Regions from separate parts of the Homo sapiens genome. Here region 1 is linked to region 2. A link means that fine-mapping ties the variant in region 2 to the expression of a gene that starts in the linked region. Tissue or cell type: whole blood. Region 2 holds a variant in brackets; the other region holds the start of a gene. All regions are shown on one strand. Distances are from middle to middle.

Region 1 (15,068 bases), 23 kb after region 2:
TTAGTGGGTACACAGTTCCAGTTTGGGATGAGGAAAAAATTCTGGGAATGGATGGTGGTGATGGTTATACAACAATGTGAATATACTTAATGCCACCGGGGACAGGCGTGGTGGCTCACACCTATAATCTCAGTACTTTGGGAGGCCAAGGGTGGTGGGTCACTTGAGGTCAGGAGTTCAAGACCAGCCTGGCCAAGATGGTGAAACCCTGTCTCTACTAAAAATACAAAAATTAGCTGGGTGTGGTGGCAGGCGCACGCCTGTAATCCCAGCTACTCAGGAGGCTGAGGCAGAACTGCTTGCACCCGGGAGGCAGAGGTTGCAGTGGGCTGAGATCACGCTACTGCGCTACAGCCTTGGTGACAGAGCGAGACTCCATCTCAAAAAAATATATATACTTAATGCCACTGAACTGTACATTTAAAAATGGTTAAATTGGTAAATTTTATGTTAGGTGTATTTTACCACAATTTTAAGAAACAATAATAATAAAAAGAAGGGTATCTCCCTGTCTTCTCAGAAGGCCTAGGTGCTTTGGCTCCAAAATTAACTTCCTACTTGTAAAAAGGCAGAGTTTTCCTTTTCCTTTGATTAACGACAATTAGGATGTATGTAATAGTTTGTATCTGCCAGGCTGTATCAAAGGGTGACACTTCTTTTTGGCTTTCGCAATCTCTTTAGCACACACTGCTTGTGATGTGATCACAGTCTGGTTCAATGGTTATTCAATAATACAGGTTAGGTGTCCTTTACTGAAACACTTAAGACAAGAAGTGTTTTGGATTTCAGGCTTTTTCAAGTTTTGGAATATTTGTTATTATGCTTACCAGTTGAACATTCTAAATTCAAAAATCAAAAATCCAAAATGCTCCAGTGAGCATTTCCTTTGTGCATCATGCTGGTGCTCAAAAAGTTTTGAATTTTGGAGCATTTCAGATTTGGGATGTTCGAATTATAAAACTGCTTGATTTTTCCCTCTAAAAATATTAATAATAATAAAGGAGTGATGTCATAAAAGAAATGCAAATTAAACTTTACAAACTTTAAAAATAAAAAAATACAATGATAAAAGGAAGAAACACACACATTATTTGTATTCAGAATCTATTTAGCCTACTCTAGTAATCTAATGACTCAGCTAAATCCTAGTAATATCATTCTTATTAAAATACCATTCCAAAATCTAAAACATAAAATTTCAATTTTCATAATTTAGGAAAAAGAACCACAGGTTGATACTATTTATTTCAAGATAGTAACACTTGCAAACTCTTCATAGGTCCAGGAAATTAAAACACCTCATCCATGGAGTCTAGTGACCCCCTCCAACAGTCTGGGCTGGCTTGTTACTACTATTCATAAATGTGCTCTACCTCAGAGGATGAATGATGTACTTCAGACCTGTGAAGTCAACCCTCCAGCAATAAACCCTCTAGTATACTTTCCTGCACTAACCAGTAAAACACCAACATGGTAAATTCATCCTTTCAAGAAAGTTAATTGATTCCAGAGACAACTGAGAAATGCCAAATGACTGGCGCATAAAAGTACCGTTTCTAAATCACAGATCCTAAACTCCATAATGCAGATTGACCATCACCTCTACAAATACTGCAGTGGGTCAAGTTCAACTCTTTTACACTGTCCCCTAAGATGCCTAGAAACAATGTGTGATAAAGCCAGGTGTAACAAGAGGAAAGGTGGCTAAATGCAGCCCATTTCCTGAAGCAGTCACCCATTTTATGCCCTCAACACATCTCCTAAGTTAAGAAGCATAAAAGGTTTACTCAAAGATAAAAGCTCTGCACCAGGTGGCCAAGCTGACACCAGTGATTTTGGAATTAACTCTAGGGGGACTTTAAAACTTCTGCTTCCTACCATCTTTCTGCCATCACACTTCCTTGCCTGTAACTGGTGATTCATATCCATTTATCAAATATTTTCTGAGCATGTACTACACACCAAGCATCGCTCTAAGAGCTGGATAACAGGCAAGGTCTTCATCAGATTTACTTCTAGAGAAAACATAAAAATAAGCAAAAATAGGGCCAGGCATAGTGGCTAATGCCTGTAATCCCAGCACTTTGGGAGGCCAGGGCGGGTGGATCACGAGGTCAGGAGTCCGAGACCAGCCTGGCCAACATAGTGAAACCCTGTCTCTACTAAAAATACAAAAATTAGCTGGGCATGGCGTGCCTGTAATCCCAGCTACTTGGGAGGCTGAGGCAGGACAATCACTTGAACCTGGGAGGTGGAGGTTGCAGTCAGCTGAGATTGTGTCACTGCACTCCAGGTTGGGCAACAGAGTGAGACTTCATCTCAAAAAAAAGCGAAAAGGAAATAAACGATGAACTATATGGAGACATTTAGATAATTTAAGAATATTTTTATCTGAACTGTGATTCATTTAAATGCCTGTTTTATTTAGAAAATTCTGCCTATAAATCTACTGGAAAGTAGTCTAAGTTTTCAAATCCTAAAATCTCTCTTCTTCATGTTACGCGATATTTGACATTTATTCCTATGGTGTAGTGCTTATTAAGGTTGGAATGTGTAATATGTGTTAATTAGTTTCTTCCTATTCATATAAATTTCAGAAAACTAAAATGAAGAACAATGTCGATCTAAACATGTTAGACATAGGAGGAAGTATACCTGCGTGTATTTTGATTCAGAAAATTAAGTTGTAGTTTTGATTACTTTCTTCCTGGTGTACTTGGACATCTCTATCGCAAACATTTATATGACTTTACAAAGGCATAAAGCTTATAATTCTTTGATTTGCTCATACCAAGATTTCCTTACCTTGGCACTACTGGTATTTTAGGCCACATTATTCTTTGCTATGGGGGCTGTTCTGTGCACTGTAGAATGTTTGGCAGCATCCTTGGCCTCCACCCAATAGATGCCTTCAGTTAACATCCTCCCCCAGCTGTGACAACCAAAAATGCCTCCAGGCACTGCCAAATGTCCCCTGCCAAATGTCTCAACTGTCAACCCTACTTGAGAGCCACTCACAGGTCTTCACTGAGTAAACATATTGTTCTACAGTATTAAAGAAAGTTCCAAACAAGAAAAAAAGGATTTAAATGAACCTCCTCAACCCAGAGGCTATAGGCTCCCTGAAGGTTTCCTTCCTTTCCTGTTCTGTTCACTCCTCCAGGCCTGGGCATTAACAGGTGCTCAAACATTTGCTGAAAGGAGAATCAATCACCATTGGGAACCAGTCAGAAAAGAGAGTATGAGAAATTTAAGATTAAAAAAACAAAACAAAACTTAAGTAATGGCCATTGATCCAGATTTTGAAATAATTTAATTTGTCTGGCTATATAATGGAATGCAGCAAATATTCTGATTAGAGTTGAGTGCCTATGCTAAGCATAATGGGGTACAAGAGGAGTAAAACAGTCCCTGGCCTCAAGGAGCCTACGGGTGGCTGGGGGAGGTAAATATGCAGTTATGCAGGTAGGTGCAATACAACAGACTAGAATGTCCACTGCAAACATACACCATGCTGTGTGTGTATTCCCAGTCCACTTTTTCAAATATCAAGAGATTCCATGAAGAAGGCTGGCATTTGACATGGGCTTTGAAGTGTAAGTAAAATTTTGATGAGCAAAAGTAGGACACAGTACAGTAGTTAAACAAGAGGGAATGACATAAGCAGAAACTGGATATTTCTTGGGGAAATAGTGACCAGTTGGGTTGGGAACATTTTAAAAAGTACAGTAGAGGGATTGTGAAACATTAAGTAAGGTCAAATGAGTTCAGGTCGCAGGAAGGTCTACAAGTCTGAATAAGGAATTTGGACTTAATGGTTTTGTTCAAGTCCCAACAGGAGAGTGACCTCCCTGAAGATGTGGCCGTCTACCCTGCCAAAGCTGTGCAAGATTAGTTCCACTGGGGCGCGGGGGTAGGTGCAGAGGCCATTCTTACTGCTACCCACAGTAATACAAAAGTGTAATGACATGGAATTTACCTATAGTATATGCCTTGCATTCTATTTTTCATTCTATTTTACTCCGTTATTTTTAAGTAATGGCAAACATCCAATAATTTGGTTTCACAACCCACTGAAGGGTTTGCAAAGCATTTCTTCGACCTTTTGGATAAATATGGTGAATTCAAATGTTGGGGGTACTGGAAAAAAGGAAGAGTATAACAGTTAAGTAGGAGACTACTGAGCCAGAATTGGCCTGGTGTGTCATTATTCTAGGGACTGGGAGGATGGGATGCTGGAATACCAAGCATGACTCTATGGTGGTAGAGGGTGTAACTCTGAAGTGAATGATCATGAAGTTCAAGCTAGTTACAGCTAAAAAGGAAGCCAACAGAATGGGAAAAGAGAAATGGCGGAAGGCAAGCAGGGGACAGACGGTGGGAGCGGCAAGGAGTGACAGGGACACAGCGTTCAGAAGTGTTAAAGGTGGGGTCACTTTTCTCACTAATTATACGGTCCAAGCTCTGGAGTATCTAAAGTGCAATTAGAAATTCACTCCAGTTGCAGAATCAGGATGCCAGATGAGAGAGGTGAAGAGTCAGTGTCTGTGTTGATGGGACACAGTATAAATAATATATAAGAATGTAAAACCAGGTGCTGAAGTGTTTGAGGACAGTGAGGCTGTGCCTTGGAAATGGTGAGATGTCAAATAAACATGTGGGTTAGCACTCACCTCAAAATATGTAATATTGAGAAGTATATAATGAAGAATATACTATGGAAGTGGCCAAGAGGATTGTGGCATTTAAGGAAACATCATATTGCAGTAACCCCAGGAAATGGAAGCATTTTGATCATTGAAAAAGGTTCAAGGAGGCAGACAGGAAAAGACAGAGTGGTTTTTGATAGGTTTAATTTTAAAGTAAAAAAAAAAAAAAGGAAGAGATTTAGATGACCATGATAATTGTTGATAAAGATCAGTGCTCAAATAACAAATTGGTGGCACAAGAGCTGAAGCTAACTTAGAACCAAGTTTTCCTTCGCTTGGCATTTTTAAAATGGAATAATTTTTTTAAAAATCTGGGTTTCTGGCTTTCTTGCAAAGTCTGAAGTTCTGGTAATGTTGACTCTATGGTCCTACGTGGCTTTTAAAATGTGCATACCTTTAGCTCTACTGTGTGTATATATCATGTGTATACCATCTGTCGGGGTTGGATAAATTATGGAATACTATTTAGGGACTGAAAAGACTTAGAGCTCTAAGTATAGACATGGAAAGATTTCTTACAAATAAAAAAGCAAACTGCTGAATAACGTATAGTGCAATCACATTAATGTGAAAAAATGGAACTATATTATAATAATATATATTATATAACTTATGACATAAAATATATGGCCTACACAGCCACTGTGGAAAATATATGGCCATTCCTTAAAAAGAAAAACAGAATTACCATATGACCCAGCAATCCTACTTCTGAGTATATACCCAAAAGAACTGAAAGCAGGAACTCGAACAGCTCTTTGTATACTATGCTCATAGAAGCATTATTCATTATTCCCAATAGTCAAAAAGTGGAAGCAACCCAAGTATCCACCAGTGGATGAATGGATAAACAAAATGTGGTACATATACACAGTGGAGTATTACTTAGCCTTAAAAGTTAAGGAAATTCTGACACAATCTACAACATGAAAGAAGCTTGAAGACATTATGCTATGTGAATTAAACTAGTGACAAAAGTAGTACAACAGAGAAATATATACAGTGACTAGTTTGAGGTATAATATGGTCAGTTTTGAACCTTAAAAATCTTCCAGTCAATTAAAGGTCCTTAAGAATAAGATGTACTGTCAGTGTCCAGGATCTACTGATGGACATTTTTCTTCTGAATAGCAACATGACTGTTCCTATCCTAACTAGAAAACATAGCTGAAGCAGTTAGCTATCGTAATTGACCTGGGGGTGAGAATTGTAGGTAGGCACACCCACAAAGTATTCTTACACAAAGAAGCTGAACTTTGACTTTAGCACTCCACTTCCGTCTTGAGGTTACTAATGACTTGTCCCCAGATGTCACTTAATCACTAGATCCTGTTTTTACACATGAAAAATGGGGTAACAAAGCACTCTGAGGATTAAATGAGATGGAATATGTGAGAAAGGATCTAGCAAGCACCTGGTCTGATACCAGTTCATTCTCTTCCCCCATCAAGTATACATGAAGGGAGACCATCATCTCTAAATACAAACATGTAATTATGCTAACCATGAAAATTCTAAACCATAGTCTAACCTCACATTCTTCCACTGACTTATAGCATGAACGCCATTTTATGTAAGAGCATTATTTAACAAAATTCCAATGGAAGCAAATTCAGAAGATCTGAAGGACTTTATTATAAACCCTTACACTGATACCACAAGTCATATAGCAGAAACATTTATGAAAGCTCCAGTGACTTCATGCCACTAAGATTTTAAAATAAACATAAGTCATTCACTGAAGTTTCAAAGGTTATAATGACCCAAGGCACACAAGAAGAAACACTGTCCAAGTAACTAGCTAAAGCCAAGTTCAAATTAGGCTATTTTAGGACCTACACAAAACTAGTCAATACATAGGCCAAAGTATTATTATTTTCATTGTTCTGGCTGTCTTTCCATGTAGACCAACTTCTAATGGTTAAAGAAATACAATTACTACTACTGAACAAAAAAATACAATTACTACTCTGTAAAAGAAATAATCTCTAAATCAAAAAAGATTTCTCCTGGCCAGGCGCAGTGGCTCACGCCCGTAATCCCAGCACTTTGGGAGGCCGAGGCAGGTGGATCACGAGGTCAGGAGCTCAAGACCAGCCTGGCCAAGATGGTGAAACCCCGCCTCTACTAAAAATACAAAGATTAGCCAGGCATGATGGCAGGCGCCTATAATCCCAGCTACTAGGGAGGCTGAGGTAGGAGAATCGCTTGAACCCAGGAGGTGGAGGTTGCAGTGAGCCGAGATCGCGCCACTGCACTCCAGCCTGAGAGACAGAGTGAGACTCCATCTCAAAAAAAAAAAAGATTTCTCTAAGCAAAGGTAACAGGAAATTATGCCCCTCTGCCAATTTACAAAACACTAGAAAGCACCAATAAGATGCTTAAAGTTTTTATAAATGTCTCATTTACTCAACATTATATATACTGAATTGTTCATGTCAATTCCTTTGCCAGTGGTTTTTACTTAATCTTAAAAAAATTATCATATGATAAAATTAACACATTTACTTTGGATGAATAGTTCTGATTTTAATGTATGGTAGCATCACCACCATCAGAATACAGAACAGTTCCATCACTCCACAAAGATCTCTCCTGCTGTCCCCTTTATGTGTACATCCTTCCCCTCCTCTACTCTCAGCACCACTGAATTGGTCCCTATCACTATAGTTTTATAATCATCCCTTTTGAACCTGGCTTCTTTCACTCAGTATAAAACCTTAATTAAATATTCATGCAAGTTGTTACCTACACCAGCAATTCCTTCCTTATTATTGCTAAGTAGTATTCCATAGTATGGCTATACTGTAGTTTAACCATTCACTTATTAAAGGATACTTTGTTTCCACGTTTGGGCTATTATGAATTAAGCTGCTATGGACATTTGAGTACCAGTTTTTGCACAAACAAAAGTCTTCATTAGGAAAATACCCAGGAGTGGAATTGCTGGATCGTATGATAAATGTATGTTTAACTTTATAAGAAAGTGCCACTGTTTTCTGGAGTGGTGGTGCCATTCTGCATTCCCACAAGCAATGTGTAAGGATCCAGTTGCTCAGCATTCTTGCTAGCACTTGGTATTGCTCATATTTTTTTCTCTTTTAGCCATTCTAATAGGCATGTAGTGATATCATGGTTTTAAACGTTTTAACCACTTTATGGGTATCTTTTATTAAATGGTATACACTGTTTCAATCCCTTAAACAGAGAATGCTGAATATTAATTTTTATGACTCAAAATCATCCTTATAGAATAAACATTGTACTACCCTCAGGGACCAAGGAAGTACATAGGGTTGTTTTCCTTTTCTTAAAATAGCCCCAGAATTATGTTTGCTTTTTATAGCTTTTTAAATCTCTCTTGTCACTTCTTGCTATTAATGGTGCTCCTGCCTCTGGCAGACTCTCCTCTTCATCCTCTTCTCAAGCTGAGTTTAGAAAATAGATAACCAAGCTTGTTAGAATTACATATGAAAAGAGGCCAGTCCATGAGTGAGAGAGCTTAAAGGATTCTTCAGTGAGGAAAGCAAAAGCACCCCCCTACACCCGCCAACCCCCCACATCACTGTACCCAAACTTCCTGACATCTTGCTTGGTTGCTGAGAAATTTCTAGTAGCTAAATCTCTTAGGCACTTTTCAAAAAGGTAAGGTTGCCAGCTAAGAGACCACCAAGTAATTGAGTTATTACAATATTCATTTTGTGCAATTCGCACTATAATATGACCCTAGGTCAATAATTAAAAGCTTAGCAAAAGCAAAATACAGACAAAATTATCCCATTATCCCGTGTCCAGAAACCTAAGTGAAAAAGACGATCTTAAATGGAGCTTAAATCTAGTTTCCTAACACTGACACATTGGTCTGAATTCTGAGCACCTACTAGGTGTGCGAGGCATTCAAAGGGGTGCAAAGATAAAGAAACTGTAGAATTAAAAAGAACTCAACAGTTCTTTAAAGATACAGTGACCATATGCATACATACTGATTCTAATCCTAAGTAATATTCACAGTGTTCCCTTGAAAGTCGCTTGACTAGTTAAGTAGAGAGCTGTGCGGTTACCAAAGGCAAGTCAGTGCAGCTCATCCTGTCTTTTAAGTAGTCTTTTCCATCTCTGAACAAGACTAAACTATGAACACTTTTACGCTCTATTAGGGAGATGGATCGCTTCAGACAAATGGCAGCACCTTACTTCCCTGAGCGCCCCAGGCTCCGATTCAGAAATTAAAAGGCAGGCACTTCCTCTCACCCGAACTTCCCTGAGGAATGGCAGCTGTGTGTCTGCCAGGCGCAGGGGCCAATCGGGACTCTGCCGGCCGCCTCCACCCACGACTTAAACACCATCTCACCAATTGCAACCGGATCGTGGGTGGGACTTCCGCTATCATTTTAGGCTTAACTACCACCATCTCCTCGCGGGCAGTGGGGGCAACCGCGAAGACAGAATTTCACAAACTTTCAGCTCCAGCAGTTTCAAGGAAATGTCAAATGACAAGATGGAAGACCGAGTGTCAAGAGCTAAGACAACAAAAAGGCCCCCAAAATTTGTTTTCAAGAAAACCAATGAAAAAAGCAAGCAATCAGAACGTGAAGTCCAGGATCATGGATGTGCTTATCTTCACAGTCACTGCTGGGTCCTGAAGTTCTCCTCTGGCCCAGTGCCAGCTGCGAAGCCCTCTGCCAAAGGGCCAGAGGAGGCCGGTGATATAGAGCTCTGATTACCCACCCGTCAGGGCACCGCTGAAGGTCACTGAATACTTACTGTGCACCCGAAAAATAAATCCTGCGAGTTCACGCCCGCGTAGTTCGCCCCCTGATTTTGAGCGACTCCTTTCGCATGGGATCTACAAAACCGAACTGCCTTAAAGACCTCTTTCACACGGACGTGAAGTCACAGAACTGACAAAATCCCATCCTGTCAAAGTGCACGGGTCTTTGAAATCTAACACAAAAAGCCATAGAAAGATTCTCTAAACACCCTGTACTAAGAGGAACACGGACAGGGCACTGCGTTCTGAAGTAGAGGCCAGGGCACTGGCCCTTAGACACGTCTCGCTGTCACCGGGCTAACAACATTGGCAAGGGCGGCGGCAGCAGCACTGATATTTGCAGCCCCCAAGGGCTCTGGCGAAACCCCCTCTATTACTCTGTATCCTGCCTGCTTCCAAGATGAACCTGTTGCTGGGAAAGAACAGGCTAAATTAGAAAAGGGAGTATTTTGTCAAAGTTGAAGGTGAGTGATAGCCTGCCCGCCTCAAATAGGATGGGAAAAACTAAGGATATTGGGGATGATGACACTGTCGCCTCCGAATTCTGGTCCGGGGCTCTCTCCCAGCCCTCAAGTGTCCCCACGCGGCCGCGGACCCCGAACAGGGACAGCTGGAGACGGGCTTGGGCAGCGCGCGGCCTGCACCCGCGGCCATCCATCTTGCAGCCCGGCCCGGCCAGGCTATCCCGGGCAAGGGCTGGGGGAACTCGCTGCCCCCAGCGCCGCCACGGCCGGGCGACATTCTGCGCCCTGGGAAGGGGGATAGGGGTGCGGCGCGGCCCCGGTCCCCGGCCCGCCCGGATCCCCGGCCTCACCTTGACGTGGAAGCGGATGAGCGCCAGGCGGATGCAGTGGGCCATGCAGACGGGCGGCAGGAACCAGACCTTTGGCGGCGGGGTGCCCTTGTTCTGGACATGGCTGACGATCTGCTGTGCCGTCTGGCGCTCGTTGCCCTGCCGCTTGACCCACTCGTGCAGCCGGGCCTTCTCGAGCGCGCCGTTGAAGAAGACGAAGAGCTCGATGTTGCCGCCGAAGCAGGCCTTGGCCAGCGCCGCCAGGTAGCCAAGCATGTGGTTCCACTGGCCGCCGCTGACCCAGTCGGTGTAGAAGCCGCCGTAGAGGCGGTGCAGGCAGTTGTCGGCGTCCACCAGCAGGCGCAGCGGGGTCTGCGGGGGCCGCTGCCGCCCGCCGCCCACCAGGCTGCCCCGGGCCAGCTTCTGCAGCTCCACCGGCACCACGGCGCTCGGGCAGTGCTTCTCGATGTAGTCCTGGAAGCCCTGCACGCCCATGGCGGCGGCGGGGGCGCGGGCGCGGGTGCGGGCGGGGGGCGGCGGGGCCGGGGGTGGTGGGGCCGTGGCGCGCGGGCGGGCTGGCGGGCGGGGGCGGCGGCCTCTAGGGGGGACTGGGGCGGGTCGGGGGCGCGCTCATGGCCGCCGCGGCCGCCATGTGCTGCCGCCTCCCAGGGCCATGTCTGGGGAGGGACCTGCCGCCGCCGCCGCTGCCGCCGCTGCGAGGCCGAGGCCGAGGCCGAGGCTGAGGGCCGGGGCGGGGCGGGCGGGCGGCGCTGACGTAGCGGACCCGCCCGGCGCGGACGCCGCCCAGGCCCGCCGGCTAGCAGGCGGAAGAGGCGGCGCCGGCGGGACGCGGCTCGGGGCTCCCGGAGGCGGCGGCGGAGGCGGAGGCCCGGAGTTGGGCCGGGACGGGATCCGGGAGGCTTCTGAGCCGGAGCAGGCAGCGCCTGGAGGCCAGAGGCCGTTCGCCCGCCTCAGGCCGGTCGGCCGCCGCTCCCCTCCCCTGCGCCCTGTTCCCGGCAGGGCCAGAGAGGCCGCCGCCTCCGCCCGGTGGTTCTCGGGCGAAGGGAAGCCGCGAAGCAGGTCCTGGGGAAGAGCTCGCCTGCTCCTGAGGGAAGCAGCGATAAGATGGCGCTTTGAAGGGGAGCCGAGGCCGAGTCACTCTGTTCGTCGGGACGCCGCCTTTCTAACGCCGCCGTCGGCTCGCACCACTCTGGGCCTGCTGCCCACACTGACTGCGGGGTCCGGGAGAGCGGGATGCTGGCCGGCCGCGCCTGGCTTCTTGGAAAGAGCAGGAAGGAGCGCGAGAATGCAGTTCCGCGGCAGGTGCTCATCCCAGCAGCTTCGGGCTCTCGGTTGTGGTTTTTACACCTATGACAAATGACATGGCCAAACACACCATAATGTCTGAAGGTACAGGTAGCCCTAAGCGCCTGCTCGTCACGGAAGAGACTGTCTTGAGAGCACAGGTCTGTTGCAGCGTGGGAAAGCCTGCGTTACCACTGCGCAATGGCTAGACTGAAACGTGCGCCTTTGCAGTGGATCTCCCAGCTCTTCTGAGGGAGAGGGATTTGAATCTTGTTGCTTTAGTAGCATCTTCTGGAAGGAGGTCGTTTACGTAAATTCTGTTCCAAAGCTCTGTCGTAACTGCTTCTAAAATGAGGTTGATACTGTATGTATATTAGGCTTGCATAAAACATTTTCAAAAAGAGATTAATGTCTTTCAGAATATAAATTTAGAAACCCAGCACTCTAAAAGTTTTAAAGTGCCGCTTTTACTTACCTTCATCTCTCCATTTGTTCTTTTTTTGGAGAAACCTCTGTAGAGGAGCAGGATGCAACCGACAGGCTGTGGCCGGACAGCTGCTGCCCAGCACATGGAGCCTGCACGCGCACGGTTTGGCCAAAGAAGCCCCCATACTCCCGGTGAAAAAGGCAAGTTGGATTTTTCTGCTTTCTTTTCTGATACCCACCTCAAATGCAAGCCAGTATCATACGTACATAAATTAAATGCTGCTGGTATTTTAGGAAGTTACATTTAAAAGCAGGCTGACAAGTTATGCCACTCACCTATGCATAAAATTAGTCACAAAGCCAGGATGACATGTTATCTAAAAATAATACAGGCCAGGTGCGGTGGCTCACGCCTGTAATCCCAGCATTTTGGGAGGCCGAGGCGGGTGAATCATTTGAGATCAGGAGTTCGAGACCAGCCTGGCCAACATGGTGAAACCCCGTCTCTACTAAAAATGCAAAAATTAGGCGGGCCTGGTGGTGTGTGCGCCTGTAATCCCAGCTACTTGGGAGGCTGAGGCAGGAGAATTGGTTGAACCCGGGAGGCGGAGGTTGCAGTCAGCGGAGATGGCACCACTGCACTCTCTAGCCTGGGCAAAAAGCGAGATTCCGTCTCAAAAATAAATAAATAAATAAAAGAAATAATACAGTTAGCCATTAAATAACGAGCAAAATCCAGAAATATCCAAATTTGCTTTTATAACCCAAGGCAGGTTCACAAGGTGAGGAGTAGTAGTTTTTAATCACTCGTATTTTCATTTGTAGCATTGCATTCCGTGTATTTACCTTTTCTTTAAACACTCTTGCTTTTAATTTTTAAAAATGCATTAGTGCGGCCGGGCGTGGTGGCTCACGCCTGTAATCCCAGCACGTTGGGAGGCCGAGGCGGGCAGATCACGAGGTCAAGAGATGGAGACCATCCTAGCCAACATGGTAAAACCCCATCTCTACTAAAAACACAAAAATTAGCCGAGCGTGGTGGTGCGCACCTGTAGTCCCAGCTACTCGGGAGGCTGAGGCAGGAGAATTGCTTGAACCTGGGAGGTGGAGGTTGCAGTGATCACGCCACTGCACTCCAGACTGGCAACAGAGCGAGGCTCCATCTCAAAAAAAAAAAAAAAAAAAAATGCCAGTGCCAGTATCTGGAATTCTGGAAATAAATTTATTTTCACCTTATTATATTGTAGAGGTCTAAGGTTCTGGAGTCAGGCCCCCAATATCCATCTTATGATAAGTCTGTGCCCTTGCAAAAATATTTACCTTATTGAACCTTGGATTTTATCATCTGTAAAATCAACATATTAATAGTACTTAACCTCCCAGGTTGTTATAAGGATTAAATCAGATAACCTGTGTGCCTGCCACACAACAAATGCTCAATAAATGTTGGCTTTTGTAGTTATTTCCAGAAACTGTATTTGTCTAGACTTATACTCGAGAACATAGACCAGTTATTGTACTTTTGGAAAGTTTAAAATTCATTATTGTATCATAACACATAAAACTCAATTCTTAGTTGCCCTATTTAGCTTTGTGTTCTTTAAAAAAAAAAAAAAAAAACTTTATTTATTGAGTAGCTATTGATGGTGGGCAAAATGTTTAGCTGACAAACACTTATATACTCTGCATCCTTAACTCAAATTCAGGGGTTGGTTGAAGTTAAATTGCTTAAATATTGAGGTAAAAATAAACATCTGGGCCGGGCGCAGTGGCTCACGCCTGTAATCCCAGCACTTTGGGAGGCTGAGGTGGGCGGATCACAAGGTCAGGAAATCCAGACCATCCTGGCTAACACGGTGAAACTCCGTCTCTACTAAAAAAAATACAAAAAAAAATTAGCCGGGCGTGGTGGCAGGCGCCTATAGTCCCAGCTACTCAGGAGGCTGAGGCAGGAGAATGGCGTGAACCCAGGAGGCGGAGCTTGCAGTGAGCCGAGATCACGCCACTGCATTCTAGCCTGGGCAACAGAGCGAGACTCCATCTTAAAAATAAAAAATAAAAAATAAACATCTGTATTTAAAATTTAATAAAAAGTTATGTCTTCTTGGAGGTTACAATATGACAACTAATGGTTGGGGACTTTTTCTTTTTTTATTTTGTATTTATTTTATTTATTTTTTCTCCCCCAAGATGGAGTCTTGCTCTGTTGCCCAGGCTGGAGTACAATGATGTGTTCTCAGCTCACTGCAACCTCCCTCTCCCAGGTTCAAGTGATCTCCTGCCTCAGCCTCTGGAGTAGCTGGGATTACAGGTACACACCATCACACCTGGCTAAGTTTTGTATTTTTAGTAGAGACGGGGTTTCACCATGTTGGCCAGGCCAGTCTCGAACTCCTGACTTCAAGTGATCCACTTGCCTCTGCCTCCCAAAGTGCAGGGATTACAGGCATGAGCTACCGCGCCCAGCCTAATATCATTAATTAATATTTTACTTAGGTGAGGTATCTAACCACCAACAATAACAGATGAGTTTCCAGTTTTTCAAACAAGGTAATAAGAGACCTTAATGCTGCCCATGTAATCATTAGCAGATGTTGGGAGACCAGCAGACTGGAGCTAAGCAGGGAGTCTGCGATCATGGAAGAGAGCAAATTAATCCACACTAGGGATTCTAACCTATAATGTTTACCTAGCACCAGCCCTGTTAATTAATTGTCAATTTAAATTACCCAGAAGAACACACACATCTGTAGGCCTGCTTCATAAATGGTAGATCAGTAACTGACCACACTGCAGCCGTGTATCGGCAGTTGAGTTTTTTGGTCTTCAGGCTCTGCTATCTCTCCAGTACTATGAGTTATCAGCAGTAGCAGAGGGTAGGAGAGCTCCACAGAGATCAATATTCGGACTCTGGAGACCATGACAAAATACATTTCATATTCCAAACTAATATATAAACTACCTTTTTTTTTTTCTTTTCAGATTTCCAGAAGCTGTTCTGTCAATAACAAAGTCTCAAAGAAAACCACAAAACCACCAACACTAAGATCATTCTTGAGTCCAATTT
Region 2 (15,068 bases):
ATTTTTTTATAGAGATAGGGTCTCACTATGTTACCCAGGCTGGTCTCGAACTCCTGAACTCAAGTGATCTTCCCACCTTGGCATCCCAAAGTGTTAGGATTACAAGCATGAGCCACCATACCCAGCACAAGCCCTCTGTTTCTGACCAAGAATGTCTTGGAAGGAACTTGCCTGGCACCAAATCTGGTGCCAGATTTGGCTGGGCAGGGGGTGGTGGCAGTTCCCAGGCAAAATGTCTTAAGGGTGATATTCTCTAGGTTGAGGAGCCCTCAGTGTACAGTTAGCGTGCAACAACAGTGTCTGATCTGCCATGAGTGGAGGGGGAAGACATAGGACTAGGACTAGGACATGGCACTAATTCACACGTGTCACCATGGCATTCAGAGGAAGGTGAATATGCTAAGCAGAAAGTGATGGAGAAAGCCTGGTTAGAAACAGGGCTGACGTTTTGAACTCACAGAGTAGGAAGTAAGCTAGAAAATGTTTACACACTCGTTTTGAAGACTGACATTATGCTGCTTATTTAAAATAAAACTAGAGCATTCTAGGTCTAAGCACAGTCAGCAGGCCGGGCGCAGTGGCTCATGCCTGTAATCCCAGCACTTTGGGGAGGCCGAGGCGGGTGGATCACCTGAGATCAGGAGCTCGAGACCAGCCTGGCCAACATGGCGAAACCCCATCTCCACTAAAAATACAAAGATCAGCCAGGCGTGGTGGCACACGCCTGTAGTCCCAGCTACTTGGGAGGCTGAGGCAGGAGAATCACTTGAACCCAAGAAGCAGAGGTTGCAGTAAGCCAAGATCATGCCACTGCACTCCAGCCTGGGTGACAGAGCAAGACTCTGTCTTAAAATAATAATAATAATAAAGCACAGTTAGCAAAGACACTATTGCTGAGCTTCTCTTTGCTTGCTCTACTCTAGTTCTCTCCCAGAGATACCGTAAGTGCCAGCACTACCAACACGGTATCTTTCAGATCCCACTCAGACTGTGTCTTGTCTTTCCCTTGCTGGCCTCTGTTCCTGCTCCTGCTGGCAGGGTCGTCCATTCCAGGTCAATCAGGAAGAATCCTGCTTGGCAGTCCCACTCACTCCATGGGAGGAGCCAAACTAAAAGCAATCCTGTAACAAGGAAGGAGCATAAACCTCCCACAACTTGTATCCCTTTCTTCCCAGCAATATGACTGGAGACCTACTCCTAATCTGTGAATAAAAGACAGAAGCTGGGTGTGGTGGCGCACACCTGTAGTCCCAGCTACTTGGGAGGCTGAGGCAGGAGAAGGAGAATCACTTGAGCCCAGGAGTTTGCGTCTGTACTGCACATGATCACACCTGTGAACAGCCACTGCACTCCATCCAGCCTGAGCAACAGAGCAAGACCCTGTCTCTTAAAAAAAAAAAAAGAGAGACACAGAAAAACTATTCTTGAGCCCCAAGAGATTCCAGCAGATTCCTCAGAATTCTAAGCTTTCCAGTTTTATTTTAAAACAAACAGGCAATAGAGGACACAGACTGGAAGATATGAACAAGCAGAAATCCTTTTGAGTTCAGTTTGTATTTTAAATTATTTCATTTAACAACTCCACATATAAATTAAAAGGAGCAAATAACAAATTTCTTATTAAATGCAGGTTTTCAAGACTTAAAAGCTTAAAATCCAGTACAATGAATCTGTATACATTAACCATTAAGAACATTTAGCTAATGTCACATGCATGATGATGGTGACAATGATGAGCACCACTAGCAAGACAGACATTTTTATTACACTTCGAAGGATCAAATATCAATCTGTCTAAAGTGGTTATCTCCGAGAAGTGGGATTATAAGTACCTTTCATTTTCACATGACATATTTCTGTACTGATTAAATTGTTTCTTATTATTTTTATAATAAAAATGAATTTTTAAAAAGATAACATAGGCTTCTATCTAAAACAGTAAAAATGCAACAGAAATATGAAGACTACAAAGATTAACAAAATCAGAGGGTTCAGTCAAACTACGTCATCTTGCCTGTCTCTCTTTTTTTCCCCAATAGACTATGTTTAAAAAAAAAACAAACAAACAGAAGAATGTTTTAAATTTACTTACCTTTCAGGCCCCTAATATTATATTTTCTAAAGCTAAATAAGTACTTAGATTTTAGGAAGTTTTTCTTAGCTCTTACTAAACTATTATAATATAACGACTTATTAAGAAAAAAATATATGAAGTGAACTTCAATTAACACTAACATGTAAGGAGAAATTCCTTCTTTGGAGGGTTCACAGAATTCAGAACTACCCCCTCCTGCTATGACAATATAGGTGAAAGTCAGAAATAAACGAAGTTCATCTTTCTATTTATTTACAGTTTATACCCAACTTAATTTTTTAAAAAAAGATTTCAGAAAGATCAAGTCATCTGATCACTGACCTAGCTCCAGCAAGGTTACGTGGTAAATGCCACACACAATGAAGCCTCAAAGTGCCTGAAATGCTACAGCTCTTCTCGGACAAAAGCTGGCTCCAGGCACTGCATGAGACCTACTGGGACCTCTAGCCCTAGTCCAGAGACAGGCACCATGCACAGCGGTCACTAGGACCACAGGCTGGGCAGCAGCTGCAACAGCCACCCAGGTGTCCATCTGGGAAGCCCAAGAGAGAGGACTGTTCAGTTCCTCTTTGTCTCAAAGGGCCAGTCTACTAGACTGGCCCACTGTGGGGTCTGCTGTGTGTTCCAACCCTGGAGGTGACACAGTCCCTGCGATAAGAAGGCCAGACTGACGGCCCTACCATCGTTGCTCCTGGAGATCCTGATGCTACCCTCCTCACTACTCTCTCAGAGCCAGACCCAACTGCTGGCCCTAAAGGACATGTTTTAAAAGTACCACTCAATGACTTCTGGTTGAAGACAATAAGATATAAAAAATATAGTTAAAGATACCCCTGGGAAAAATTCGAGGTGAATGGCCAGGCACAGTGGCTCACGCCTATAATCTTAGCACTTTGGCAGGCTGAGGCAGGCGGATTGCGTGAGCTCAGGGGTTTGACACCAGCCTGGGCAACAAGGTGAAATCCCGTCTCTACTAAAATACAAAAAATTAGCTGGATGTGGCAACAGCGTGTACCTGTAGTCCCAGCTACTAGGTAGGCTGAGGCAGGAGAATTGCTTGAACTCGGGAGGCAGAGGCTGCAGTGAGCTGAGATCGCACCACTGCACTCCAACCTGGGCAAGGGAGCAAAACTCCGTCTCCCAAAAAAAAAAAAAAAAAAATGGAGGTGAATCTAAAAGTTTTCTTGATACAGCCTGATAGATTGCCCCCGGTATACGGGTGCCTCAGGGAAAGATAATGCTGGTAAAAGATTACCAAAATAAGTGAATCAGAGTGGTAAGGTGATAAATACACAAAGACATTTAAATCAAAAGGAAGAAATGCCAGGGCTAGGAATTAGAGGGAGCTCCTAAGATGATGTAGAAGAAAGCAAGAAGAGTACTTTAGGGGAAGCTCCAAGAGAGGATCATACAGAGAAGATGGCGTTCCATGAATGAGGGTGCAGCCTGGCCCAGGACCCAGCCTGGCCCTAGGATAACCAGCTGATGGGGTCAGAAAGGGCTGGGGGAGGACAAGTACTTCTAGGGGAGGCTCACCATGCAGAAAAGGGGTCTTTCAAAAAGACTGGGAACTGCAGTGTAAACAGAGTAAAACCGACTAAACCTAACTAGAAAGTAGAACTGCTGGTAGTGAAGTCTCAGGAAAGGATCAGTCCATATAAAATCTGCAAGCTGGGGTGTCCCAGACAAGGAGGCAAAAGGAGCTCGAAGGGCTCAGTGGTTGGGAATACTTGGCCATCACAAACAACTGGCATGGATGGAAACTCAAAATATATGAAATTGAATATGAAGTTAAGGAACACAAAAACCACTAAAATGAATACAATGACCTGAAACTAAACAGGTCCAACTTAAATGTTATTATACCCAAATACGAGGTCAATAGGATGTAGAACACCCAAGTGACAAAAAGCCTTCTGTAAAGTGTTTAAAAACCCAAGATTCAAGAAAACCAGAGGCAACAAGAAACATGTTTTTTTAAAAAAATAAAGCCAGCAAACATCTATAAAACATTTTTAAAAATTAAAACAACAAAATGCCCACCCAAAATAAAAAATTCCCGTAACCAGTTAGGACACAAAATCATACAATTTTTAAAACCCCAAAAGTCACATTTTGAAAAACTGCTCACTTAGCACATGTCTACAGCCAGGGGGCCCTGCCCAGGGTGGACTGCCACAGCCGCAGGCCGCCTCTGATGAGTACAGGCCACACCAGCTATGCAGGGCACCCACAGGCTCACTAAACCTTATGTCCAGGCAGACCGAATGGCCAGCCACTCCCAGGGCACAGGAGGAGGCAGGCATGGGGGCACCACCTGAAGGGAAACAGAGGCTGGGCTTGGGACTGGAGCCCATGCTCTGCAGGCTCAGCTCTCTGGGTACCAGGCTGCCTGACGCCTTCCATTTCTCTCATGCAACACTGCCAGCCACACTAAAACCATGAAAGGAGCACAGCGGCCCAGAGCAACACAAACAGTGGGAGCCTCTTCGAAAGACCAATATGCATCCAGCCCACTTTTCATTACTGTAAATACAATCACAAATCTTCCTAATTATAACACTGAGTCCAAAAACACATTGAAAGGATATTCAATGTATTTTCCTTATTAAAGATATGACCCTTTTAAGAAATATTGCCATTGGAAAAAGTTTAAATGAGCGAGGAAATGAGATGCACTCCTGGAATGCCTTCCCCATTGTTTGGGAGGCATTCCAGGAGTGTATCTCAACTCTTCCAGGTACATAAAAGATTCTCTTATGTTTCCAATCAAACAGAGTAACTTACTTAGAGCAAAGTAAGATAAACGCAGCCTCAGGCTTGGGTGTCTGTGCAGCCCTGGGGTTTTACCCATCCTGGCCCAGCCTGCTCTGTATCATCTGCTGCCAGGCTCCCTGTTCTGCAGGACCTGGGCCTGGGTAGAGACAGAGGTCGCACTCCAGCCCAGCCTCCAGGCATCTCCGGGACTGCAGCAAGGAATCCCAACAGCAGGTCTCCCGAGGAATAGGGAGTAACACATAACTCTTGTTTTCTTTCTCTCATTATAGAATTGACCACATCTTAGAAGCTATCTGACCCCTAACCCCATCCTACAATTTTACATGTTACATGAAATGGCCCAAGTGTTCTGAACATAAATGAAGTAGTCTTTGCATCTAAACCTAAGAAATTCAATGCCCACCTTACTAGCAGCTCTTAAGGTTACCATTGAGGTATGAAGAAGTCACCTTACATCCTATTTCCTACTGTCTTCTACCAATTTTAGGTTCTGAGTATGTCTAACATTGCATTCATAATCTAGTAATAAGCACGATCTACTACTAACTAATAAGGCAGGACAAAACAGAATTTGGCTCCCATCCTAGCTTTCCTCTCTGCAGATATTACCCAATGATTTAACAGTTGTTCTCCCTTGTGCTTCTGAGCCCGCAGAGCCCCAAAGCAGACGTGCTATTCTTTCAACACAACCAGGGCTGTGGACAGTCAGGGAGGACTTCACAATTTCTAACTGATGTAGCTGGTTCGATGACAGTCAGAGAGTTAAAAATTTACAGTGAATGAATGAATGCATGTAGTGAAATTGGTAAAGACACATGTTTAAAAGATGAGTCTAAGGATGCTACTTATAAAGAAAACAAAAATTCATAGTGCTGCCAACATACTGAAGATTTGGAATCACATAAATTATCGACTACTGATGACTTCCTATCCATGGTATTTTGTGATTTTCATCAGATGGTAAAAAGATGAAATTTTCTCATGATTTTTATTGGTTCCCTTTCTAACAGAGTATACTGGAAAAATAGCTGTTAAGGACACGTGACTTTGCATCCTCAAGCTTAAGCCTCCTTGGTCCATCCCTTTTATCATATTATATTTGTACTATTTTGCCAAAGCCAAATTTATTATTGTTCACAGAGGGCTGGTGTTCTATGAAGTTAATATCTAATCAATTCAAAGCACCTCTTAAAATGCAATACCCTACTTTGGGAGGCCGAGGCGGGCGGATCACGAGGTCAGGAGATCGAGACCATCCCAGCTAAAACGGTGAAACCCCGTCTCTACTAAAAATACAAAAAATTAGCCGGGCGTAGTGGCGGGCGCCTGTAGTCCCAGCTACTTGGGAGGCTGAGGCAGGAGAATGGCATGAAACCGGGAGGCGGAGCTTGCAGTGAGCCGAGATCCCGCCACTGCACTCCAGCCTGGGCGACAGAGCGAGACTCCGTCTCAAAAAAAAAAAAAAAAAAAAAAAAAATGCAATACCCTAATCTTAAACCTCTCATCATTTCAACATAATACAAAAACACAAAGAATATTTCAGAAAATAAAACTCAGAATATTATGGAAGATATGTAACAACTATCCAAATTTTCAAAAGATGCAATTGGTTTTACAACTGGGGAAAAACAAAGAGACTAAAATAGCAGGTGGGATACATACAATTCTGTAGCACATCCATCAGTCATGCTCATGGGGAGTAAAACCACATCCAATTTCCCCTATGTATATTAAAATCACTGAAATGGTGCTGCATACAAAAATGTGAATGAAGGGTCAAAACATTAAAGTGAGCCGGGTGCTGTGGCTCACACCTATAATCCCAGCACTTTGGGAGGCCAAGGTGGGTGGATCACCTGAGGTCAGGTGTTCGAGACGAATATGGACAACATGGTGAAACCCTGCCTCTACTAAAAACACAAAAATTAGCTGGCGTGGTGGCAGGCGCCTGTAATCCCAGCTACTTGGAAGGCTGAGGCAGGAGAATCACTTGAACCCTGGAGGCAGAGGTTGCAGTGAGCCGAGATCTCACCCCTGTACTCCATCCTGGGTGACAGAGCAAGACTCTGTCTCAAATAAAAACATTAAAGTGGCTAACAAATGCAATTTCTGAACTTATCTCAAAACCAGGTGCACTTGCATTTCATGTGTGACTTTAAAATCCTACAACGTATCAAGTCATCTGAAAAATAATTTAGGATTTCTTCTCCAATATGCCATAAAAGTACTCAGCTAATATCAAAATGCATGCATAAAGCTTGACTGGATCTCGATCAAAAAAAAAAAAACCTATAAATGACTCTGAAAAAATTTGAATATGGGCTTAATATTAAATGATATTAGACACTGCACTCCAGCACAGGTGACAGAGCAAGACCCTGTCTCAAAAAAAAAGATATTAAAGAATTATTAATTTAGTTGATGTCATAGGAGTAATATGATAAAGTATCAAAATGTCCTTATTTTTAGGAAGTGATGGAGCAAGCTGAAGTGGTGGAGCAAGCTGACATTTTCATGGGTAAAGTGTCATATCTGCAACTTACTTCCAAATAGTTTTTGTTAAACAAAACAAAACACAGACATATACTTTATGGCAAAATGTTTATAATTGTTGAACCAAGATGG[G/T]GGATATACGGATACACATTTCTCTATTCTTTCCACATTTCAATACTTAAAGATTTTCTCAACAAAATTTAGGAAAAACACACATATAATGATGTTATTCACTTGGCAATAGATTGAGCTGGTTTTCCAATAATTCTTCAAACAGCTCTTCACTTCTAACCCTGTGACATATGAAGCAGGGCTAGTTTAACTTAGACATACACATATAGCCAGAAACCTTGGGAGTATCTCACTCCTGCTCTTCAAAACAAAATAAATCTTGTAGGAAACAAGCTTTCATTTGTGTCTCACTTACAAAAGCATAATGCTTAACAGAGCTACTGAGCACAGGTGCAGTGCTCTTAAGTCCAGCTGATTACACGCTGCATTTCCCCAATCCACATTTCAATCATGGCATCACCAGAAGCTTAGAGTCCGAATGACAGATCACATCACTTCATTCATGAAAACATACAGGAGGGATTCTATGGCCAGAAATGTAATTTCTAACAAGAGAAGAAAAACTAATTTTTGAACAAGAAGTTGAAAACAGTCCATACCAAACCCCATTAGGGTGAAAAGGAGAACATTTTATAGCATGCCAGAGATGAAAAAGAAAAAGCATGCCAGAGATGAAACAGCAGGGAACAAAATGAAAGGAGGAAAGGAATTCTACTTCAGCTTTTGGGTATCACCAGAGTTAAAGGTAAATTAAAATGTAGGAAGAAAAACTCCCATTTGAAACTAGCCACCAATTAAAATTGTTTATGGAGGGAGGGTAATTACGACAACATTCAAAATTTTACAGCCCTTCGGAAAACACCCAATTTAACCGCCACTCTTTACTGTAAGGAAGCAGTCCCAGGGTGGGAAGCAGATACAAAGTCTAGGTCCCCATCTTCCTAATTCCCCAAGTCAAGAAAGGCACTTGAACTGACAAATGATCATTACAATCACAGGAGTCACTAACAAGTCCAAGCTGAAGTTTTCCAGTGCCTCGTGCATATCTCACTCATTACTCCTATGCTCACATCAAACACAGACACTTCCACTGCAGAAAATCAGAATTAAGTGCCTCATCTCTGATGTTTATTACTATCACAAACAGGAAGGGAATCAAAAGGGAGAAAAAGAATATTAAGTTTTAATAAAATAGTACAAATGGATCACTTCCATTTGAGTCTCCCTCATCATCCAAAAAGCTTTATAAACTATTTTATAATTGTAGAAAATTAGTTATGAAATTTATCAACTATGCAAAGATGTTGCTCTAAGTGACAAGTAACTATACTACCTAAAGACAAAATTAAAATTTTTAAGTAAGAAAATTAATATATAAAACATCAGCTCAAAGATTTCCTTCTATCTAGGTACACAGCACAAAGAATTCCTTAAGGGAAATTTTCAAGGACATTTATACATTTACCTAACATATAGGTGTTGAGAACAAGGGATGGTAGCATTGTTGCTTGCTTTTTAAGGCAGTGCAGATCCTGAAATTATGGGAAAACATGGTATTGCTAACTTTGTAGCATCACCAATAAAGGGCCTAACATGTTATTAAAGTAATAGCAAACTCACAGTTGATTATTACAAATGCTAGAAAAATAAAGTGAAATTTGTACCTTTAGTGAGGCTAGTGGATGTTCTGGACCAAGTAAACTCCAGTGAAAGGAAGCCAGATCTTCATCAGGCAGAATGTGATTTCCTGGAATATAAACATGGATAACATAAAAGCAATCATCTTAAGTAACATAGGGAAACTTTCAAAAGTGCTGCATATTGTCACCTATAGTAGAAAACTTTCAAACAGAAACTGAGAACAAATCTTCATCTCTTAACATAAAGCGACATACAGCAGGCAGAATCTTTGCAGCTGCTTCAAGAATGACGGGAATTTCTAGTGCAGTCCCAACAGCATTCAACCTAAGAACTGCATAAAACTGAAACAACTTCACAGCACAGTATTAAAAATAAACACCAGTTTGCAAAAGGTCAGTCTGACAATGTCAGGATATCAAATACCAATTAGATTCAAGTTTTCATTTGTTCATGAAATGACTATGGTTCAAGCTTTCATCTGTTCATGAAATAGCTACGGTTCAAAATTACATAAAAACACCAAATGTGAAATCTGCACAATTATAAAACCTTTCTTAGCAAGATTAAATGACAATGACTGCTGATTGTAACATGAATCAACACCCTTCTCCCATAATTTCCATCACCACCCACAAACATATGTGAAAAGGCCCATCCTACAGTAATACTCATGAGGCCATTAAGCTGCTCATCCTATCACCAGTGCTGTCACAGTCTACAAACAAAACTGTATTCAATTGAGAAACTATATTTGGGGGTAATACTCTACTTTCATAATAATGTTCGTATGCCTGGTATACCTGATCTTTAGTAGGTTAGCTATCTCATTGAAATCTCAAAGCAGTAATTTCCTAAATAACCATGATTTTTATAACATTACTTAATCACCTCCACATTATGATAGCAAATTCATTAATTTGCTACTAACAGAATGCAACACAAACTAAGACCATTTGGAATATTGCTACGTTATAATATAGGTTGAGCATCCGTAGTCCAAAATGATGTAAAGTCTGTAAAATCTGATGTAAAATCTGAAACTTTTTCAACATCAACATGATGCAAGTGGAAAATTCCACACCTGTGCTCATAAGATGGGTCACAGTCAAAAGGCGGTCAAAATGTTGTTTCCTGCACAAAATTATTTAAAATGTTTTACAAAATTACCTTTAAACTATGTGTATAAGGTATATATGAAACATAAATGACTTTCATGCTGACTTGGGTCCCATCTTTAAGATACTTCATTAGGCATATGCAAATACTCTAAAATACTTCTGGTCCTAAGCATTTCAGATAAGGGACACTCCACCTGTATTCCAAACACACAAACACACAAGCCAGAGGTACTGAACTCCCGTGATGTCCAAATGAGCAAATCTGAACCGTAACTGCTCAGGTTTGCTGGCTTGATATTGTTTTCCCGTTAATGGATTGCATAGAATTTCACGGTGAAGAATGAAGTGTCTGGCCGGGCACGGTGGCTCACACCTATAATCCCAGCACTTTGGGAAGCCAAGGTGGGCGGATCATGAGGTCAGGAGATCGAGACCATCCTGGCTAACACGGTGAAACCCCATCTCTACTAAAAATACAAAAAATTAGCAGGGAGTGGTGGCGGTTGCCTGTAGTCCCAGCTACTCGGGAGGCTGAGGTGGGAGAATGGTGTGAACCTGGGAGGCGGAGCTTGCAGTGAGGCGAGATCATGCCACTGCACTCCAGCCTGGGCGACAGAGCAAGACTCTGTCTCAAAAAACAAACAAACAAAAAAAGAACGAAGTGTCCGAAATTTTGGAAGCTTCAATTCGAAATAATATTAAGGCAACTCCAACATTAGTAACAGTCCCTGTGAAAAATTGGGGGGTGAAATACTTAAATGAATATTCCAACATTCCTAAAACAAAATACTTTATATAGCTATACTTTCCATTACAGAAGGGAAAAGAAAAATAAGCTTTCTCATTTGAGCACAGTGAAACTTTTCCAGCCTGGCCAACGTGGTGAAAATTAGCCAGGTGCGGTGGCACACACCTGTAATCCCAGCTACTCGGGAGGCTGAGGCATGAGAATCGCTTGAACCTGGGAGACAGAGGTTGCAGTGAGCCAAGATCGCACCACTGCACTCCAGCCTAGGCAACAGAGAGAGACTCCATCTCAAAAAACAACAACAACAACAACAACAACAAAAACTTAGGAGCTTACCTATAACTTCACTAAACTTTTTGAAGAGATTGCAAGCCCTAAATTAAATTGACAACATATTGCAATTGATTTTTTCATTTATTTCAAAACTTCACAAACTAACAAGCTAGAAAAGTATCAGTTGGCATCATCTTCCAAATACCATATTCAATGTTTCTTAAACAAGATAAACAAGTATTCTTCCATTTTTCAAATGAGCTAAGGCATCCATATTCTAAGAGCATATGATTTTCACATTCAAAGTCAATTAATATGCCAAGTTATTTTACATAGCATTTAAGCAAACATGGAACTTTCCATATAATGTGCCACCCCCATACTCACTTTTAACATCAGAGGAAATATCCTTTTATATTTTAATATTTGAAAATATATTTAAAAGATTCGTTTTAATCCCCAAATCCCCAAAGGCACAAGAGTTCCCTTACTAAGCACTGTATTTGAGATTAGATCCAAACAAACACAAGTTGTGAAATCACAATTTTGTTGACTGACTCATATAGTAAAACATGAAATGCTTTCACAAAATAACATATAAAAAATTATGTGGCCAGGCGCAATGGCTCATGCCTGTAATCCCAGCACTTTGGGAGGCTCAGGCAGGTGGATCGCCCTGAGCTCAGGAGTTGGAGACCGGCCTGGCCAACATGATGAAACCCTGTCTCAACCAAAAACACACAAAAAACTTTAGCCGGATGTGGTGGCATGCACCTGTAGTCCCAACTACTTGGGAAGTTGAGATGGGAGGATCACTTGAGCCTGGGAGGTGGAGGTTGCAGTGAGCCGAGATTGCACCACTGCACTCCACTCTAGGCAACAGAGTAAAAACCTGTTTCAACAACAAAAAAAGGCTGGGCGCGGTAGCTCACACCTGTAATCCCAGCAAAGACAGAGGTGGGTGGATTGCTTGAGCTCAGGAGTTCAAGACCAGCCTGGCCAACATGGTGAAACCCTGTCTCTACTAAAAATATAAAAATTAACCGGGCGTGGTGGTGGGCGCCTGTAATCCCAGCTTTCAGGAGGCTGAGGCATGAGAACTGCTTGAACCATGCAGGTGGAGGTTGCAGTGACCCAAGATCACACTACTGTACTCCAGCCTGGGCAACAAAGCAAGACTCCATTTAAAAAAAAAAAAAATTGTCCAAAGATATCTTAACGATGAAAACTTGAAAAGCATAGCCTCTGCAGCCCATGGGCTGGCAGTTTGCTGATCTTTTAAAGTTAATCTTTCCCTGCCCAGTCCCCATTTTCTGGTAAGGTTTCTAGGAGGTCTGTTGGTATACATCCTACAACTTATTGACTTAAAATGTACTCTCCTTTGAGACCGATTGGGAGAAATAGAAATCAATAGCGCAATCGTTTTGATACTGAATATTGAAAAGTGTCTCTTTGAAATAAAGAACCAGTCCCTCCAAAAAAATAAAAATAAATTGTGACTCCTTACAATTTCTAGTTGTGTAAAACTGTTTTGGAATGTTTATAAAAATCTTTCTGATAACTAGGCATTTCTAAAAATAATCCACAATATAATCCCCTCTTGAACAGGACTGGATTGGACTGCTAGCCTCTATAGAATATATACTGCAAGGGAGCACAGTAACTGAGCACTAGAGACCACACAGCTTCCCAAACTGGCCTTGTGTGTCCAAAACAGCCCCAAATCCCATCAGATTCATGGATTCTAATCACAGGAGTGCCTCCCTCCAAAACATGTTTACTTATATTTGGACACAATTCTTATAAACTAAGTAAACTAGAGCTGGATATTAAAGTAGGGTGAGACAAGCACAATGAAAGCATAAGAAAGGGTAGCTGACAAAAGAGCAAAGAAAGAAAACACACAATGCAAATATAAAGTGACAGACAAATATATTACTTCTTGGGAATTTTTTTTTTTTTGGAGACAAAGTCTCACTCTGTCTCCCAGGCTGGAGTGCAGTGGCACGATCTTGGATCACTGCAACCTCCACCTCCCTGGTTCAAGCCATTCTTGTGCCTCAGCCTCCCAAGTAGCTAGGATTATAGGCGCCCACCACCATGCCCGGCTAATTTTTGTATTTTTAGTAAATACAGGGTTTCACCATGTTGGCCAGGCTGGTCTCAAACTCCTGACCTCAGGTGAGCTGCCCACCTTGGCCTCCCAAAGTGCTGGGATTACAGGCGTGGGGGAATTATTTTTAATTAAAGAAAATTAAAATCTAATGTCATAGTTAAAACAAGATTTCATCCTTTCTGGGTATTCAGCATAAGGAATTCCTCCAAGGAAATTTTTTAAAGACATGTATACATTTACTTAAAATGTAGGTGTTGGAAACAAGCTACGATAGCTTATTTTTGTTTCTCTTTTAAAGTAGTGAGTATCCCGAAAATGAGGTGAAAACATAACCATTCTAACCCCATAGCATATTTTCTTCTACTATAAACATAATTTATGTCAAAGGTTTAAATGTCTAATTTACATAGTGACCATGTGTTGACATCTGTGATTTAGAATGTTAGTTTTCCAAAACCTTAAATGAGTTTTTTCACAAAATTAATCTGAACAATTCCTGGATAGAACAATACCTCAACAAACACTTAAGAACAAAAGTAGCACATTAGCTATGCCAAAAAATAATACGAAGCAAGGAATGCTAAGGAAGAGCCCACGCCTTGGTTCTTTTCAATGTGTGATACATATCCAAAACATTCAAGCACAGAAACACTTAAAAGATCAATGTGCTTATCATATGGTCACTCCCTTATAAAATATTTTCACACTGCTCCACCTACCTAAGAGAGCAGCAAAAATAGGAAAACGATTTGGATTCAGGTCCAGTTGCTTGGCAACTTCATGCATCAGATATTGGCTTGTGGTGAGACTTTTCCCGTTCCGGCTCAGTTTTAGGGCATGGGCACTGAAATAGTAGGGGATGTTGCACAGTGCATAATCAGAGTCATACGCAACCAAGCCATGGAAACCATTCTCTCTGCAGAAACCAATCACTTCCTGATGGTGATCCTCAATGCTCTGTGCAACCTGGCAAACGAGAAAAAAACTTCATCAGATGTAGGGTAACACTGTAGCAACAAGCTCAATAAGCAGAAATGTTTGCACAGAAGCTGAAAAATCACATTTATGAAAACTATCCGTGAAAGCCAAACAGTCAAAAAAATGCCATAATAAAGTTTGCAACACATTGCTCCACTAAGAAATTTCTGTGGGAAATCGCATTTAAATCATCTCCTGTCAGTAACTTATGATCCCATCTAGACTGTAAATCAATTTTCAATTCTTGTCAAGCTCAAAGATCACCTTGCTTGAAAATACACAAAGCCAGCTGACCCCATGACAGTATTTTCAAGAAAGAGAGGGGGAGAAAGACACAAGAAAATAAAGAGTTCTGTGAGAAAGGAGACAGAAAGAAGCCACCCACTGTCAATGAAATCAAAACAATTTCTTCAAAGTAGATCAAATGTGTCAGGTGAAATCATCAGAATTTAAAAAATAAAATAAAAGTATGATCCCTCGGCCTACCTGTCAACCAGTTCTTATCCTCCTAAGGCCTCCCACACGTGGAGACCATACAAGGATGCACACGTTCACCCTCAATGTAACTGCCACAGGCTTATTCTATGTCCCACACACTATGTCAAGACTAGGTCTATATCAATTGCCTTTTCAATGATGAAAAAATCTAAGACACCCTCTTTACTTCTACTGAATCCCCAATGTAACATCCACAATACCTCGGATTTCCACAACACACGAAGGAGCAAGCAGAGAAGCAACACCTTTGAGAAGTCA

What was found.
Region 1: FAM120AOS starts here. The variant in region 2 is fine-mapped to the expression of FAM120AOS in whole blood (TOPMed, PIP above 0.99).

Annotation. Positions count from the first base shown.
Region 1 is chr9:93,447,613-93,462,680 of GRCh38, reverse strand. It overlaps FAM120AOS (family with sequence similarity 120 member A opposite strand), which reads left to right and starts at 9,100. Exons shown (of 3, transcript NM_198841.4): 1 at 9,100-10,534; 2 at 12,082-12,202; 3 at 14,984-15,068. The coding sequence starts at 9,972. FAM120A (family with sequence similarity 120 member A) reads right to left here and starts at 10,996. Exons shown (of 18, transcript NM_014612.5): 1 at 10,292-10,996. The coding sequence starts at 10,765. RefSeq lists enhancers at 1,607-2,106, 8,900-9,194, 9,258-9,387, 10,967-11,516 and silencers at 10,107-10,286, 10,587-10,716, 10,857-11,386.
Region 2 is chr9:93,470,373-93,485,440 of GRCh38, reverse strand. FAM120A (family with sequence similarity 120 member A) reads right to left here. Exons shown (of 18, transcript NM_014612.5): 2 at 14,054-14,300; 3 at 9,103-9,185. Among named protein-coding and RNA genes, the nearest start is that of FAM120AOS, 24 kb to the right of the region's middle. RefSeq lists an enhancer at 2,416-2,916. The variant G/T (reference allele first, on the strand shown) is at 7,499.